Regions from separate parts of the Homo sapiens genome. Here region 2 is linked to region 1. The links come from fine-mapping of genetic effects on gene expression. Tissue or cell type: skin. Region 1 holds a variant in brackets; the other region holds the start of a gene. All regions are shown on one strand. Distances are from middle to middle.

Evidence for each region. PIP is the estimated chance that this variant, and not a neighbour inherited with it, causes the effect.
Region 2: ZNF212 starts here. The variant in region 1 is fine-mapped to the expression of ZNF212 in skin (TwinsUK, PIP 0.95).

What each region holds. Positions count from the first base shown.
Region 1 is chr7:149,274,939-149,283,039 of GRCh38, forward strand. ZNF783 (zinc finger protein 783) reads left to right here. Exons shown (of 6, transcript NM_001195220.2): 5 at 3,461-3,589; 6 at 6,567-8,101. The coding sequence ends at 7,405. Among named protein-coding and RNA genes, the nearest start is that of ZNF783, 17 kb to the left of the region's middle. RefSeq lists an enhancer at 6,495-7,031. The variant G/GT (reference allele first, on the strand shown) is at 4,694.
Region 2 is chr7:149,234,770-149,242,870 of GRCh38, forward strand. It overlaps ZNF212 (zinc finger protein 212), which reads left to right and starts at 4,882. Exons shown (of 5, transcript NM_012256.4): 1 at 4,882-5,033. The coding sequence starts at 5,010. RefSeq lists an enhancer at 4,649-4,943.

The sequences.
Region 1 (8,101 bases):
TCTTTGATATTTTGATAGGAATTGCATTGAGTCTGTAGATTGCTTTGTGTACTGTGGACATTATAACTAATTCATTCTTCCAATCTATGAACATGGAATATCTTTCCATTTTTTGGTGTCCTCTTCAATTTCTTGCATTAATGTTTCATAATTTTCATTCTAGACATCTTTTACTTCCTTTGTTAAGTTTTTTCCTAGGTATTTTATTTTATTTATAGCTATTGTAAATGGGATTATTTTCTTGATTTCTTTTTCAGATTGTTCACTGTTGGCATATAAAAAGGCTACTGATTTTGTATATTGATTCCGTATGCTGCGACTTTGCTGAATTTATCAGTTCTAATAGGTTTTTTTGATGGAGGCTTTAGGTTTTTCTTTCTTTTTTTTTTTTTTAGACGGAGTTTCGCTCTGTTGCCTAGGCTGGAGTGCAGTGGCGCGATCTTGGCTCACTGCAAGCTGCGCCTCCCGGGTTCACGCCATTCTCCTGCCTCAGCCTCCCGAGTAGCTGGGACTACAGGCACCCATGACCACGCCCGGCTAATTTTTTGTGTTTTTTTTTAAGTAGAGACGGGGTTTCACTGTGTTAGCCAGGATGGTCTCGATTTCCTGACCTTGTGATCCGCCCGCCTGGGCCTCCCAAAGTGCTGGGATTACAGGCATGAGCCACTGCGCCTGGCCCTCTCCTGCCGTTCTTTCAAAATCATCTTCAATGAGGTTGCCTTCTTGGCCTGTGCTTCCCTTTATTCATCTGGGGGCACTGGAGGCCAAGGAGCTGCGTGGAGTCTTCACCTGATGGAACTGATGGAAGTGGCATTTTTGGAGAGGCCTAGGACTGCCCCAACTAGGAGCACTGCTGACTTGCAGGCTGCTTGATCCTGGGGGTGCTGCCCCTTTGCCAGTGCTGTCCCCCAAATCCAACTGCAGTGGAATCTGGCTCTTCCTCCCAATATTTAAAAAATTATTCATAATTTTTTTTGGCAGGGTCTTGCTCTGTCACTCAGACTGGAGTCGTGCAATCATAGCTTACTGCAGCCTCAACTTCCCGGGCTCAGGTGATCCTCCCACCTCAGCCCCCTGAGTAGCTGGAACTACAGGCGTATGCCACCACACCCAGCTCATTTTTGTATTTTTTTGTAGAGGCAGGGTTTCACCATGTTGCCTATACTGGTCTCAAACTCCTGAGCTCAAGCAGTTCTCCCATCTTGGCCTCCCAAAGTGTTGGGATTACAGGCATGAGCCACTACGCCCGGCCTTATTTTCAATTCTTAGTGGCTCACGAACAGTCAGGATTCATATTTTCACTTAGACTGTTCTGTTTCTCATTCTTTTTTGAGGCTTCATCCTGCTCAGTCACCACCTTGTGATGCTTGGGGCTGTTTAGTAGGATGGATGATGTGTTTTTCTTTGTTGTAGGAAGGATCCAAAGATGAAACTTCAGAGGATGATCCACTGAAATTTTTAGGATCTGCTGATGAAGCAACCGTCTTTAGGCTTGTCATGAAAGCAACATTTTTAGGGGCAGTGTAACCCGTTGGTTTATAACTCTCCCGTACGTAAAGGGGAATCGGTAGCAGTGTTAGCAGGCACAGACTCAATTGGATTATTACTTTTCATCACTATTTTACCTTTTGATAACCTTCTAGCTGGTTTTACCTCTTCTGTTAGAAGAGAACCTCAGTTGAGGTAGAGTGGACAGGACCCCACTTGGGTTACTTTTTATTTATTTATTTATTTATTTATTTATTTATTTGAGACAGGGTCTGGCCCCGTTGCCCAGGTTGGAATGCAACTGGCACAATCATGGCTCACTGCAGCCTCATACTCCTGGGCTCAAGCCATCCTCCTGCCTCAGCCTCCCAACTAGCAGGGACTGCAGTCATGTGCCACCATACTCGGCGTTTGGTGGTTATTTATTTATTTTTTTTTTTGAGATGGAGTCTTGCTCTGTCGCCCAGGCTGGAGTGCAGTGGCGCGATCTCGGCTCACTGCAAGCTCCGCCTCCCGGGTTCATGCCATTCTCCTGCCTCAGCCTCCCAAGTAGCTGGGACTACAGGTGCCTGCCACCACGCCCAGCTAATTTTTTGTATTTTTAGTAGAGACGGGGTTTCACCATGTTAGCCAGGATGGTCTTGATCTCCTGACCTTGTGATCCGCCTGCCTTGGCCTCCCAAAGTGCTGGGATTACAGGCGTGAGCCACCGCGCCCGGTCTGGTTGTTCTTTTATCTCTGACAAGGCATTGTTCTCTGGATGCTTAAGTTTAGGAAGATCCAGCGTGGTAAATTCCAACCCAGGTTTGGAGGTAGAGCCACTTTTTCCATGATTCTGGGTTTCTTGTCTGTTCCCTTCTGATCTGATGCCCATCCAATTTCAAATTCCTCTTAGCATCAAGTGGACAAATGATGTGAGCCATTTGCTGATTTCATCTCTGATGGTAGCATTCTGTCAACTCTCACTGTCAGCCTTTTGCTCATCATAGTTTTTTTCTTATCATCTTTTTTTGCTTAAAAAATCAGAGCTTTGGCCAGGCACAGTGGCTCACTCCTGTAATCCCAGCACTTTGGGAGGCCAAGAGGGTGGATCACAAGGTCAGGAGTTCAAGACCAGCCTGGCCAAGATGGTGGAACCCCGTCTCTACTTAAAAAATACAAAAATTAGCCGGGCATGGTAATGGGCGTCTGTAATCCCTACTACTTGGGAGGCTGAGGCAGAGAATTGCTTGAACCTGGGAGTCGGAGTTTGCAGTGAGCCAGGATTGCGCCACTGCACTCCAGCCTGGGCAACAGAGCGAGACTCCGCCTCAAAAAAAAAAAAAAAAATTCAAAAAAAAAAATCAGAGTTTGATTTCTTGTGTGAGAGGACAAGTGCTCATTTCGGGGCTTTACCATTTGAAAGTCTTGCTAACAGCTGGGTTGGTTACGATCACTCTGGGAGGCGGGCACTGATTAAACATGTATATAGACACGGGTTCTAAGAAGTAGGCGTAGGGATGGAGTTATCTTGAAAGACAACTTCTGAGGGGAAAACCTTGACGCTCCTAACGCCATATCTTCAGTTGTGTTTCTGCCCTGCCTTGGGTCCCCTATGCCATAAGAGCAGCTTGGAGGAGGAGGAGGAGGCCCGACTGCGGGAGGTGGTGACCACCCCACTGGCTGGTGGGACAGGCATGGTGTTTCTCTTTCCTGCCTTAAAATGCCAGATTCTGTCATGACCTGCCTGGCGATCATTACCGTGATTTCCTGTCTGCTGAATTCCTGTGCTGCAGTTTCCTTCTGTGGGACATGAGGCTTTAGACTGGAATCTAGCTGCCAGGTATTTGGTGGGGTCCACCTCACTATCATGCCCTGTGCTGGAGCTGAGGCCCCAGGATCGCAGTGACTCTGCCTTTCCCCAGAGGGTCCCTGGTCATCTGGGCAGGAGACCTCCATGTTGTGCTCAATGTCACTGATTTACATTCTCCAGGCCTCCCTCCGTATCCAGAGCACCTCACCAGCCCACTTAGCCCTGCCCAGGAGGAGCTGAAAGAAGGGCAGGCCCCCAAGCAGCAGCAGGACTCAGAGGCGAGAGTGGCCCCAGCCGGGCCAGAAGCAGGTGAGTGAGGACAGTGAGGCGGCAGGATGAACAGTGTCCCGAGGCAGCACGCGATCACCAAGCGATGGTGCTGAGGAAAAGCCCTGGAAGCATGGGGCTGGGAGAGAGGGCTGGGAGACTGGTTGGGCTGGGCCGGACAGGCTTTCTGGGAAAGAGGCCCCTGAGACAGGCCTAAAAGAAGGTAGGTTTTGGCATTTTCAGCGTGAGAAAACAGTCTGTATAGAGGGGTGGGTTCCTCTGCGTGTTGGGGGCCTGGGCACATGGGTCCGGTGGAGTGAGGGGAGGGGGTAGATGGGTGTGTTGTGCCTGCCCAGGGTCTTTACGAGGGTCCCATCCACGGGGCAGTGTGTGTCCTGTGCCTAGCGCGGCGCCAGCATGGTGTTTCTCAGTAAACGCCCTCTTTCTGAAGACCTACTGGGAACTCTGGCTTTAGTCATCCTTCCAGACTTCTTTGTCTGCTTTTATTTAAAGGCAGTCCCTGCCTGTCCTTTCACAAAAGTGTATATCAGGGCATTTAGCGGAACACTTGCAAACAGTCCAGAGCTCTGTTCTCTGTCTAGTGTTCCTCTGCGGGGCTGGCTCCTCCACCTGGTCCTGCCGCTGGCCCGACTTTCAGTCTCTGGTTGCTTTCCCTGTGGTGATTTCTGGGTATCTTCCCCACTGGATCATCCTCCCTTCCCTGGGTTTCTCTTTCCAGCCAGTGTGTAAGTCTGGGCTCTGCTCATGGAGTTGGAGAGATGGGACCCTCTTAGGTGGGAAGGCAATGTTCCTGCCCCATTGCAGACCTGGAACGGTGTCCGGGAGCCTCCCAACCCTCTGTTCTTTTCAGGCTCATCAGGGTGACAGATGCTGAGGGACAAGTCATTAGCACTGGCCTGCAGGAGTGTTGGGGACATGGCCTTCGTAGCTCTTGTCTCACCTCTGAAGCCCTCGGGACAGAAGCCCTAGGCCTCCTTTCCCTGACAGGGACTTGCGCACGTCCAGGGCTGCTGGGGAGATGGCTGTGCACGCTGCAAGCCGCGGGTGTCCAGCAGCCGGTGTTGGGAGAGGCCCTCGCCGAGTCTTTCTCACGTGGCCGCCAGCTAGCACCAGCATTTTATCTTT[G/GT]TTTTTTTTTTTTTTTTTTTTTTAATTTTTTTTTTTTTATTGATCATTCTTGGGTGTTTCTCGCAGAGGGGGATTTGGCAGGGTCATAGGACAATAGTGGAGGGAAGTGGGGAAGTGGACACAGCACATGTTTCAGAGAGCACAGGGTTGGGGGTAAGGTCACCGATCAACAGGAACCCAAGGCAGAAGAATTTATCTTAGTACAGAACAAAATGAAAAGTCTCCCATGTCTACTTCTTTCTACACAGACACGGCAACCATCCGATTTCTCAATCTTTTCCCCACCTTTCCCCCCTTTCTATTCCACAAAACCGCCATTGTCATCCCGGCCCGTTCTCAATGAGCTGTTGGGTACACCTCCCAGACGAGATGGTGGCTGGGCAGAGGGGCTCCTCACTTCCTAGTAGGGGTGGCCGGGCAGAGGCGCCCCTCACCTCCCGGACGGGGCGGCTGGCCGGGCGGGGGGCTGACCCCCCCACCTCCCTCCCGGACAGGGCGGCTGGCCGGGCGGGGGGCTGACCCCCCCACCTCCCTCCCGGACGGGGCGGCTGGCCGGGCAGAGGAGCTCCTCACTTCCCAGTAGGGGTGGCCGGGCAGAGGCGCCCCTCACCTCCCGGAGCACCAGCATTTTATCTTTGATTAAGCCAGAAGGAGAGTCTTTAGATGGGGAGTCTCCAACCTTCCCCACCAGGGACATCCTGCCAGGCATGGGGCCTGGGGAAGAAGGGCGGAGGCACCTGTGGCCGCAGCAGAGCCCCACAGGAGTGTGGGGGCCTTTTGGGAGTGGGGTGGGGTTGGGGTTGGGTGGTGGGACCTGGTGAGGGGCTTCCTCCTGAGGGTTCTCTCCCTCCCTCTCCAGCTTCTATCTCCCTGGGGACTGTGGGGACCCAGATCAGTCTGGGGTCCTTCCTGGTCTTTCCCCATCGTGGTCTGGTCTGGCCTGGCTGGAAAGGCACTGCATGAAAACCCAGGCATCAGATCCCAGGCATGTGGTCCGATGATGATGGAAAAGCTGTTCACGTGGTCTTGGCGTGGCTGGGCTCCCAGCCCCTCCGTGTCCACAGTCTGTGTCCCTCTGCCTAGAGTCTGTGCTTCCCTGAGAGGGCAGGGTGCCAGGACCCTCCCTCACATTAGGGACCCCTGAGAGCTGGGTGCTGAGACCTGGGGTCTCACGTCTCCAGCACATTGCTGTGATCACCTGCCACTGCCTTGGTTGTCCTTGTCACTGCTGTCCCAGCAGCTCCTTGCCTCCACCCAACCTGGGAGTTGAGTGAGACTCACACAGACCCAGGCAGGAATCTCAGGTCCCAGTGCCTCCTCTCTGTCACCAGTGAGTGTAGTGGCAGACAGGTCGTGGACGCTCTGTGTGGATTTGTCATGTGGATGAGCAGCTGAGCATGGGTGCAGCACTCACCACCTCTAGTCCACAGAGGCCTCTTAGGGTGGTCTGGGGGCATGCAGGGCCCCTGGGGTTCATTGTCTTTCACAGATGGTAACTAATGTCACCAGAACTCTTGGGGGTGGGGTCCTGCCACCCTCTCTGCTGTGCCCAGGGTCTCTGCTTCTGTGTCCCACTCCAGCTGACCCCTGACCTCTGGGCTCCCTGGCTCCTGGCCTTGCAGTTTGATCTCCCCTCCCCTGATGTCCTTAGCTTGGCCTCCAGGAATGAGGCAGATGACAACAATCAGGACTGAGTGACCGTGCAAGGCAGTGCCTGTGTGGCAGGGCTCAGTGAGCAGGACCCCTGCAATGTGCTGTGAGCACTGTGGGGAGATAGGGCCCGGGCTGAGGCTGGAAGCCAGGACTGGGCCGAGTGACCTGGGGGACAGGGTGGTGAGGTCCACTTGGAAACCAACATAGACTCCTTTGCCAGGTGGTGGTGTGGCCATCAAGACAGAGGCACAGTCTGAAGACGAGATGACGCCTGAGCGGCTCTTTCTGGGGGTGTCCCGAGGCCAGACCGAGTGTAGAATCCCCCGAGGGCCCAGGAACAGGCCTGGGGGCCCCAGCCGTCATCAGGCCCAGGGCATGCCCAGGGTGCGGGCAGGGGAGCCACGGCCACCGGGGGCCAGTGGGGAGACGCCCCGAGTCCTCTCCCGCAGGCGGCAGCGGGCATTCCCCTGCCCCGACTGCGGGCAGAGCTTCCGCCTGAAGATCAATCTGACGATTCATCAGCGGACCCATGTGGAGGAGGGGCGGCAGGAGGCCCCCGGCCGCTCGCCCACCAGCTGCGGGGACAGCCAGGCCATGCTGGAGCCGGGGGAGGTGGTGGTACCCGGCCCTGTCATCCGCTGGCTCCCCGAGGAGCCTGAGGGTCGCCGCTCCGTGGCAGGGGGCCGTGCCTTGGTGGGGCGGCGGCCTGCAGCCAGCAAGATGTACCACTGCAGCGAGTGCCTGCGCTTCTTCCAGCAGCGCAAGAGCCTGCTGCTGCACCAGCGCCTGCACACCGGCAATGGCCAGGGCTGGCCCGCCTGCCCCTACTGCGGCAAGGCCTTCCGCCGGCCCTCGGACCTCTTCCGGCACCAGCGCATCCACACCGGTGAGCGGCCCTACCAGTGCCCCCAGTGTGGCCGGACCTTCAACCGCAACCACCACCTGGCCGTGCACATGCAGACCCACGCCCGAGGCCAGGTGGGCCCACACTTCCCTGCCGCCCCCGCCCGCCACGGGAGCCTGCCCCTGCCCTGGCCCAGCCGGAAGGAGGAGGGCTGACCTGGCAGGAGCCCACAGAGGACCCCTGGCGGGGTCTCTCCCCTGTGCCTGACGCAGGTTCTTCCTTTTCCTGGGATGGAGAGAGGTTTGTTGTTTTTACCCATTCAAATGGGAAGCTAGCTGCCCTTCTGGTGACATTGTGTGTGACCGGGTGCTTTCTGTTTCCTGTTTGCACTCTTCGCTGCCTTTTCTGCATTCCTGACTTCTAAAAGATGCCTTAAGGCTTAAGGGATGCCATATTTTTGATAAGGCCTCTGGTAGGTACCACAGCCAAGAGGACCAGAGATCATGGCCCTTCCAGTATGGGGGCGATAGAGACATCGGGGACCTGGGATTTTTGTTTTGTGCAGAGATCTCCTGCCTGCTGTCACCATGAGAAACAGTGGAGTGGAGTGGATGGATGGCCTGACTTGAAGAAAGGGCCCTGGAAAGTTTTCTACTTTGCTATTTTGAAATTTTTTTCCCTTCTTATAGAGACTTTGAAATACTTTTGTAAATGTGTGTAGTTGTTAATGGAACTTTGCCTTTTGCAAAGTCGGAAAGAGTCGGCTTTTCCATGTGAGGCTCGCAGAGCTGAAAGGGGAGCTACGTCCACCAGCCTGTGGGTCTTTTGGTTTTTTTTTTGTTGTTGTTGTTGTTTTTTTAAGATGGAGTTTCACTCTTGTTGCCCAGGCTGGAGTGCAATGGTACAATCTC
Region 2 (8,101 bases), 40 kb before region 1:
ATAGTAATGGCAGTGAGACAGAAAGAGTCTTAACGAGTGGAATAAAGCCATGGATTATAAACTTTTTTGAGAAAAAAACAGGCATACATATATGTACTTATATAGGCTAATATGTATGCTATAAATCATACACATGATACAAATTTAAAGGATAAGATAATTTTTGTGTGTGTGAAACAGGGCTTTATTCTGTCACTCAGGCTGGAATGCAGTGACGTGATCACAGCTCACTGCAACCTCGACCTCCTGGGCTCAAGTGATCCTCCTACCTCAGCCTCCCGAGTAGCTGGGACTGCAGGCGTGTGCCACCATGCCTAGCTATTTTTTTTTTTTTTTTTGTAGAGATGGAGTCCCATTATGTTGCCCAGGCTGGTCTCCAACTCCTGGCTTCAAGCAATCCTCCCACCTCAGCCTTCCAAAGTGCTGGGATTACAGGCATGAGCCACTGCACCTGGCCAAGATAAATATTATTAAAACATTATTTTAACAATGTATATTATTTGTTTGTTCAAAGAATACTTTTTTCTTTCACTAAAAATGAGGGTCTGGGGTGAGATGATGTCTAAGGTCATTTTCAGCTCTGCATGTTGCATTCATATTCTACAAATGTAGAGATGCCAGGCTACAAGTACTAAATGTCTATTTTCTTGATTCTTGGAATACCAATGCTACTAATGGGAATAACTGTGAACTTCATTTAAAAGTTTTTTAAGCCGGGTGTGGTGGCTCATGCCTGTAATCCCAGCACTTTGGGAAGCTGAGGCGGGCGGATCACGAAGTCAGGAAATTGAGACCATCCTGGCTAACACAGTGAAACCCTGTCTCTACTAAAAATACAAAAAAAAAAAAAAAAAAAAAAAATTAGCTGGGCGTGGTGGCGGGTGCCTGTAGTCCCAGTTACTCAAAAGGCTGAGGCAGGAGAATGGCGTGAACCTGGGAGGTGGAGCTTGCAGTGAGCGGAGATCACGACACTGCACTCCAGCCTGGGTGACAGAGAGAGACTCTGTCTCAAAAAAAAAGAGGAAAAAAAAAGTTTTTTAAAACGGACTGGGCGCAGTGGCTCATACCTGTAATCCCAGCACTTTGGGAGGCCGAGGCGGGTGGATCACTTGAGGTCAGGAGTTCGAGACCAGCCTGGCCAACATGATGAAACCCCCTCTCTACTAAAAATACAAAAGTTAGCTTGGCGTGGTGGCACACACCTGTAATGCCGGCTACTTGGGAGGCTGAGGCAGGAGAATCGCTTGGACCTGGGAGGCGGAGGTTGCAGTGAGCCAAGATTTCTCCACTGCACTCCAGCCTCGGCAAGAGAGCGAGATTCTGTCTCAAAACAAAAAACAAAAAACAACAACAATTTTTTTTGAGATGGAGTCTCGCTCTGTGGCTTAGGCTGGAGTGCAGTGGTGCAATCTCGCTCACTGCAAGCTCTGCCTCCCAGGTTCACACCATTCTCCTGCCTCAGCCTCTGGAGTAGCTGGGACTACAGGCGCCCGCCACCACACCTGGCTAATTTTTTGTATTTTTAGTGGAGACAGGGTTTCACCATGTTAGCCAGGATGGTCTCGATCTCCTGACCTTGTGATCCGCCTGCCTTGGCCTCCCAAAGTGCTGGGATTACAGGCGTAAGCCACCACACCCGGCCAACAACGTTTTTTAAAACAGCATATGTCAAGATTTGAATGTCAGTTGGAAAAAACAAATGGGTAGTTTCTAAGAGACACAACAAAGCCACATTTATCCTGCTGAACTCATTGCAATACAAGGCTTGGACCTTGCAAAAGTAAAGCAGAGAGAAGAAATTGCCTGTTATCAAGTGCTTGCTGTATGCCGGGCACTTGGCTACATAAGCACTTTACATAAATTCTTTCTTTTAGTTCCATCAGCAACCTTAGGATGAGGTGTTCACATTCTCAGTGGAAGACAAGGACACTAGGGCAGAGTGAGCATGAGCCACAGCACTTAGTAAATGAAGGATCTGGGACTAAACAACAATAATGATCATGAGTACTTCTTGAGCTCTTCCTCTGTGCCAGGTACTGTTCTAAGCACTTGACTTGAATTCACTCATTTAATTCACACAACTCTATGAGCTAAGTACTGTTATCTATTCACCAATAATCATGAGGAAACAAGTACTAAGAAGTTAAAGACCTGACCAAGTTTCACATCTAGTAAGTGGCTGTGATGGTGAATACTGAATCAACTTGATCGCATTGAAGGATGTAAAGTATTGATCCTGGGTGTGTCTGTGAGGGTGTTGCCAAAGGAGATTAACATTTGAGTCAGTAGGCTGGGAAAGGCAGACCCACCCTCAATCTGGTGGGCACAATCTAATCAGCTGCCAGCACAGCTAGAATATAAAGTAGGCAGAAAAATGTGAAAAGACTAGACTGGCCTAGCCTCCCAGCCTACTTCTTTCTCCCATGCTGGACCCTTCCCACCCTCGAACATCAACGAACATCAGACTCTAGGTTCTTCAGTTTTGGGACGCAGACTGGCTCTCCTTGCTCCTCAGCTTCCAGATAGCCTATTGTGGAGCCTTGTGAGCATGTGAGTTAATACTTAATAAACTCCCCTTTATATAACATTATATATATATCCTATTAGTCTGTCTAGAGAAACCTAATATACTGGCAGTGCTGGGCTAGGGACCCAGACGGTCTCACTCCCCAGCCCCACTTAGCAAATCACTGTGCCACACTGTCTTCATCAGCCCGGGGGACTGCAGGCGCCACACCATCTCCACCAGCCCACGTGATTGCAACCCTGGTGCCTGGTGCTGCCTCCTTTGCAGGCTGGAAATTTGATCTGAACCTTTTTCCAGACTTCCAGGCTCAGAGTCTGGGATGCTGAAACATGCTCATTTTCAAGAGACTGAGGTATACATGTGCATCAGCTTCACCTGCATGTTGCCTCCCAGAAGCTACCTGGCAACATGCAACGTCAGAAGGTTGCCTTGTGAGTATAGAAATAGAATAGAGGGAATGAGTTCTACGACCGAACTGTTTAATGACCTCAGCATCCTATGTCCTGATATTGTGCCTGTGGAGGATAACATTTTTATTTTATTTTTAAAGACAAGATCTTGGTCTGTTGCCTACGCTGGAGTGCAGTGGTGCGATCGTGATTCACTGCAGCCTTGAACTACTGGGTTCAAATGATTCTTCCACCTCAACCTCTTGAGTAGCTGAGACTACAGGTGTGCACCACTACTCCTGGCTCATTTTAATTTTAATTTTAATTTTGTAGAGACAGGGTCTGCCTATTTGCTCAGGTTGGTCTCAAACTCCAGTGATCCTCCTGCCTTGCCCTCCCAAAGTGCTAGGATTACAGGCATGAGCCACCTCACCCATGACACATTTTTTTTTTTTTCTGTATCTGACACCAAGAGTTTGTTGGTCTGAGAGATTAGGTCAGACCCTCTGGACAGGATCTCCCTGACTGACCGGTTTCTTCAGCCTGGCCCATTCTTTCTCTAGATTTATTAATGATTCAGTGACGTGCCCGTTGATCTAGTTGCCCTGGAAATAATGCCTCTGTTTGAGATGACATTTCATATCCTTACACTCTGATTCACCATTCAATCATTTACAAATATGAACACTTCTGTGTACAACAAATGGAGGATACAGTAGACAGACATTTCAGTGGAAGAGATACAGATAATTAATATGTAAATGAGTGAAAAAGAGAGATTACTTCAGATGGTGATAAATGGTATGAAAAATTTCCAGCAGGGTAACGAGATTGAGTATTGAGATGGAGGATGGTGTGGGGCTGTAGAAAGGGGGGACTGGGGATATCTCTCTGAGGATGTAGAATCTGAACTGAGCCCTGCATGTGAGGAAGGAGCCAGTCATGATCTTAAAAGTTTCGTTCTCCGCCGGGTGGGGTGGCTCACACCTGTAATCCCGGCGCTTTGGGAGGCTGAGGTGGGCGGATCACCTGAGGTCGGGAGTTTGAGACCAGCCTGACCAACATGGGGAAACCCCGTCTCTACTAAAAATACAAAATTAGCCAGGCGTGGTGGCACATGCCTGTAATCCCAGCTACTAGGGAGGCTGAGGCAGAAGAATCGCTTGAGCCCGGGAGGTGGAGGTTGCAGTGAGCCGAGATTGCGCCATTGCACTCCAGCCTGGGCAACAAGAGCGAAACTCCATCTCAAAAAAAAAAAGTTTCGTTCTCAGAGGAAACACTTCACGCCTATCCTGTGAAGTGGAAGTTCATTGCTTGTCTCCAGAGAGACAATGGTATAAATTAGGCAGCTATGGTTGCCGTAGTGTTGCTGGTATTGGGGATTAAGTACATGGCGATTAAATGGTCATGTGGCCGTGCTTTCCAACAAAAATTCCAGACACATCGTCTTACATGTAGCATGAGGACTGGAAATATTTGAAATCAGGGTTGTCTTGGACTTTCCAAGGCACATGATTACCATAATTAACAGGCTACAGAGGGCTGGCCTGGGCCTGACCCCACGCTCCACACTGTTGATATGGAAACTGTTCCCAGTTTCTAAAAAGCCAAATAACAGGTGAACTTTTGGAATAAAATCACTTGCCTTTTGGAACCATATTTCTTTTCCCCAACAACATTACATGTTCTTTCCTCAGCAAAAAGTCTGAGTTGTACACATTTTTGAATCCCTCAAAGCATTTAGCAGAGTGCTGGGCATACGGAAGACAGCAGGATCCCGTGGCTTTGCCTGAAACGCGGAACCTGGTCTTGACTTTTGAGTGACTGAGCCCTCCTGGTGCCCGCACTCTGGCCGGGAGTGCCAAGCAGCGTTCTCCCTCCCGCCGCACGGGGGCACAATGGGAAGCCTGCACAGTGAGGAAGAGCGGCTGGAGCCGGTCTTGTGCCGGGGAGGTCGCTGCTCCCAGAATGCACCTGGCATCAACACGGCGGCGGCGGCGGCGGCTTCCAACAGGCTCTGGGGCGCCGAGCGGACAGGAACGCAGCACGGGGGCTCCGAGGCGGGGTCTGGGTGTTGAGGGGCGACTGGAGCCATGGCGGAGTCGGCGCCTGCTCGGGTAAAGAGGCACCGGCGCGCTGGCTCGAGGGCGCGTTGGGGATGGCGGAGTCCCCTGCCGGGGGCGGGGCTTCGCGGTTTGGACGCCGCCGGGGTCTTGGTTTCCCGGGGCTGCCGTTGGCGCGGGTGAACGCGGACCCTCCTCTTCGCGACCCCAGTGCTCTGCCCTTTTTTCCCTCCGCTTCCTTCTGCAGCGGGGTCGGAGCCTCGGCGCCGTGCGCCCTTGCCCAGAAACTTCTCTGACGCTTGCTTTAGGTTGGTGGATTTGTGACCCTGCCCACACATTTTCTCTTTCGTGCCAAAAGAGCCCGTTCCCAGGTTGGAGTGTTTCCAGATTGGAAACGGTCTCCGTCGCTACGAGTGAGCTCTCCCGCTGCCCGGGAGACCCCAGGACTTGCCTCTCTGCGACCACCTCCTCTTCGGTCCGATGTGTTGTCGGTTTTTCCAGTGCTGCAGATTTCTGTCTGGGGGTTGCAGCCACAGGTTGAAGTCAGCCTGGGCTGCTTCTCCTTGGGGACGGATGTTATCTACAGTGCAGTTGCTGCATTTTGTTTGTAGAGCTGCCCAAACTCTCTCCTTCACCCCCCCCCCAACACCCCCCTCCCAGCCCACCGACCATCCCCATTCTGGGAATGTCAAGATACGGAGTTTGGTGTGAGGAAAATCCTATTTGTGGAGTCACGAAGCTTTCAGCTGTCCATTTGGGTGATTTTAGGCAACTGTGTTCGCTTCTCTGGGTCTCTTTCGTTTTCTTAACTGTAAATCGAGAGTGTTGGAGTAGTTGCTAGATGATCTCCAAGGCTTTAAGTTTCCTTCCAGCTCCGACATTCTCATACTGTTCCCATACTGTTTCAAAGTAGTGGTTAATTTAACAACACCAGAGGGTTTGCAACGGAAGGGGCAGCTGGAATTGAATTGACTTTTAATGAAGTGTTCCTTGGTCTAGAAACACTTCGAGAATCATGTTAGATCTTTGTGAGAATGGAGGGCTAAGGAAATTCTGTGGGGAAAATTTGACCATGAGCAGGGTGCGCTATATTTGATTCTTGTAGAAAGTGCGTTAAGAACTAAGAACGGAGAGATTGGGAGACTTAGAGAACACAGTATTTGCTTTCAAGGAAGTTAACAGTTGAATTGGGAAGACAAGACACAAATGTTTACAATATTAACCTCATCTGACTCCTATAAGCTAGGCTGAGCCAGTCAAAGACTTGGCTTTTCCACAAGATCTAGTTAGTGTTAGAGTCCGGCGAGAGGATTCTGCCACAGTTCTTCCTGCCAGGTCACTCCACAATTACCTACATGTCGTCAGTAGACCTTGTTAGGAAGAAGCCTTAAAGGTCCACCACAGGCCAGGCGCAGTGGCTCATGCCTGTAATCCCAGCACTTTAGGAGGCCGAGGAGGGCGGATCACGAGGTCAGGAGTTCAAGACTAGTCTGGCCAATGTGGTGAAACCCGGTCTCTACTAAAAATACAAAAATTAGCCGGGCGTGGTGGCGGGTGCCTGTAGACCCAGCTACTCGGGAGGCTGAGGCAGAATAATCGCTTGAACCTGGGAGGTGGAGGTTGCAGTGAGCTGAGATCGTGCTATTGCACTCCAGCCTGGGTGACAGAGCAAGACTCTGTCTCAAAAAAAAAAAAAAAAAAAAAGTCCACCACAATCCCAAACTATGCCTTAAATAACATGAATCTGTCGTTGTAGAACTTATTCAAATTGTTCTTGAGCCTGTTTCTCTTCTCAGACATTTCAGGTGTCTGTCATTTAACAGTAAGCTCAAGTAGGTGCCCTGATGAAACAACTGAAAATGCTGGAAAACCCTGCACATAAATGCATTTGAAATGTATTTTAGTAAAGAATACTTGGAGCCCCAAAACTTAAGCGAAAGAGGAAACTCGAAAGTGATAGAGTTCTGAAGCCAACTTTGAGGGCATTGGCCAAACATTCATCTTTGGTGTTTATGATTCAAGGGACCTGCAAAATGGAACACACATCTCAGAGCCTAAGATGGAAAGTCTAAGAAGCTCCCTAACCCAATCCCATGAAGCAGAGAGTTCAAAGGGTAACATTCTGTGTAAGGGTGAACTGAAAGTAAGGTCTGACCTTCAGATGATTGCAAAGTAAGTTGTTAAACCTTGGCACTGAGATTACAGGCGTGAGCCACCGTGCCTGGCCATAGTTTCGTTTCTTTTCTTTCTTTTCTTCTTTTTCTTTTCTTTTCTTTTTTTTTTTTTTTTTTTGAGAGAGTCTCGCTCTCTTGCTCTGGCTGGAGTGCAGTGGAGCAATCTTGGCTGCCTGAAACCTCTGCCTCCCAGGTTCTAAGCGATTCTCCTGCCTCAGCCTCCGGAGTAGCTGGGATTACAGGCATGCGTCACCATGCCTGGCTAATTTTGTATTTTTAGTAGAGATGGGGTTTCACCGTGTTGGCTGGGCTGGTCTCTGAACTCCTGACCTCAGGTGATCCACCTGCCTCGGCCTCCCAAAGTGCTGGGATTACCACTGCATGAGCCACCGCACCCGGCCTAAGGCAGAGGGAATTCTTAAAAGCAACCAAAAAAAAAAAAGACTACCTTGAAATGAAGTACAGCAAAATGAATGGGGGCCAGCTTCTCAACAGCAACCATGGAAGCTAGGCAAAAGTAGAATGATATTGTCAATAGGCTGAAAGAAAGTAACTGTGGTCCCATAGTTTTATATGCAGCAAAAATGTTTCAGAAACAAAGATGTAAAGAAGACATTTTTAGACAAATTAAAAATGACAGTTTGCTACCAATACACTCTTAGAAAAGGAAATTCTAAAAGATATACCTCAGGTAAAATGAAAATTTTCCCAAATAGAAAGTCTGAAAATATGAGAAGATGTGATGATGCATGGAAATGGTTAAATCTAAACAAATAGTGACTTAATAAAACGTAACAATTTCTTGTTGTGTTAAAAACAATTAAAATACATGATGGCATTGATGTAAATATGAGGAAGAGATGATCAGAACTAAAGTGTTTAAAGGGCTTTGTTAAAGGGCCTTCTATGTATGTTTCCCATAATTTCTAGGATACTTGCTAAACAACT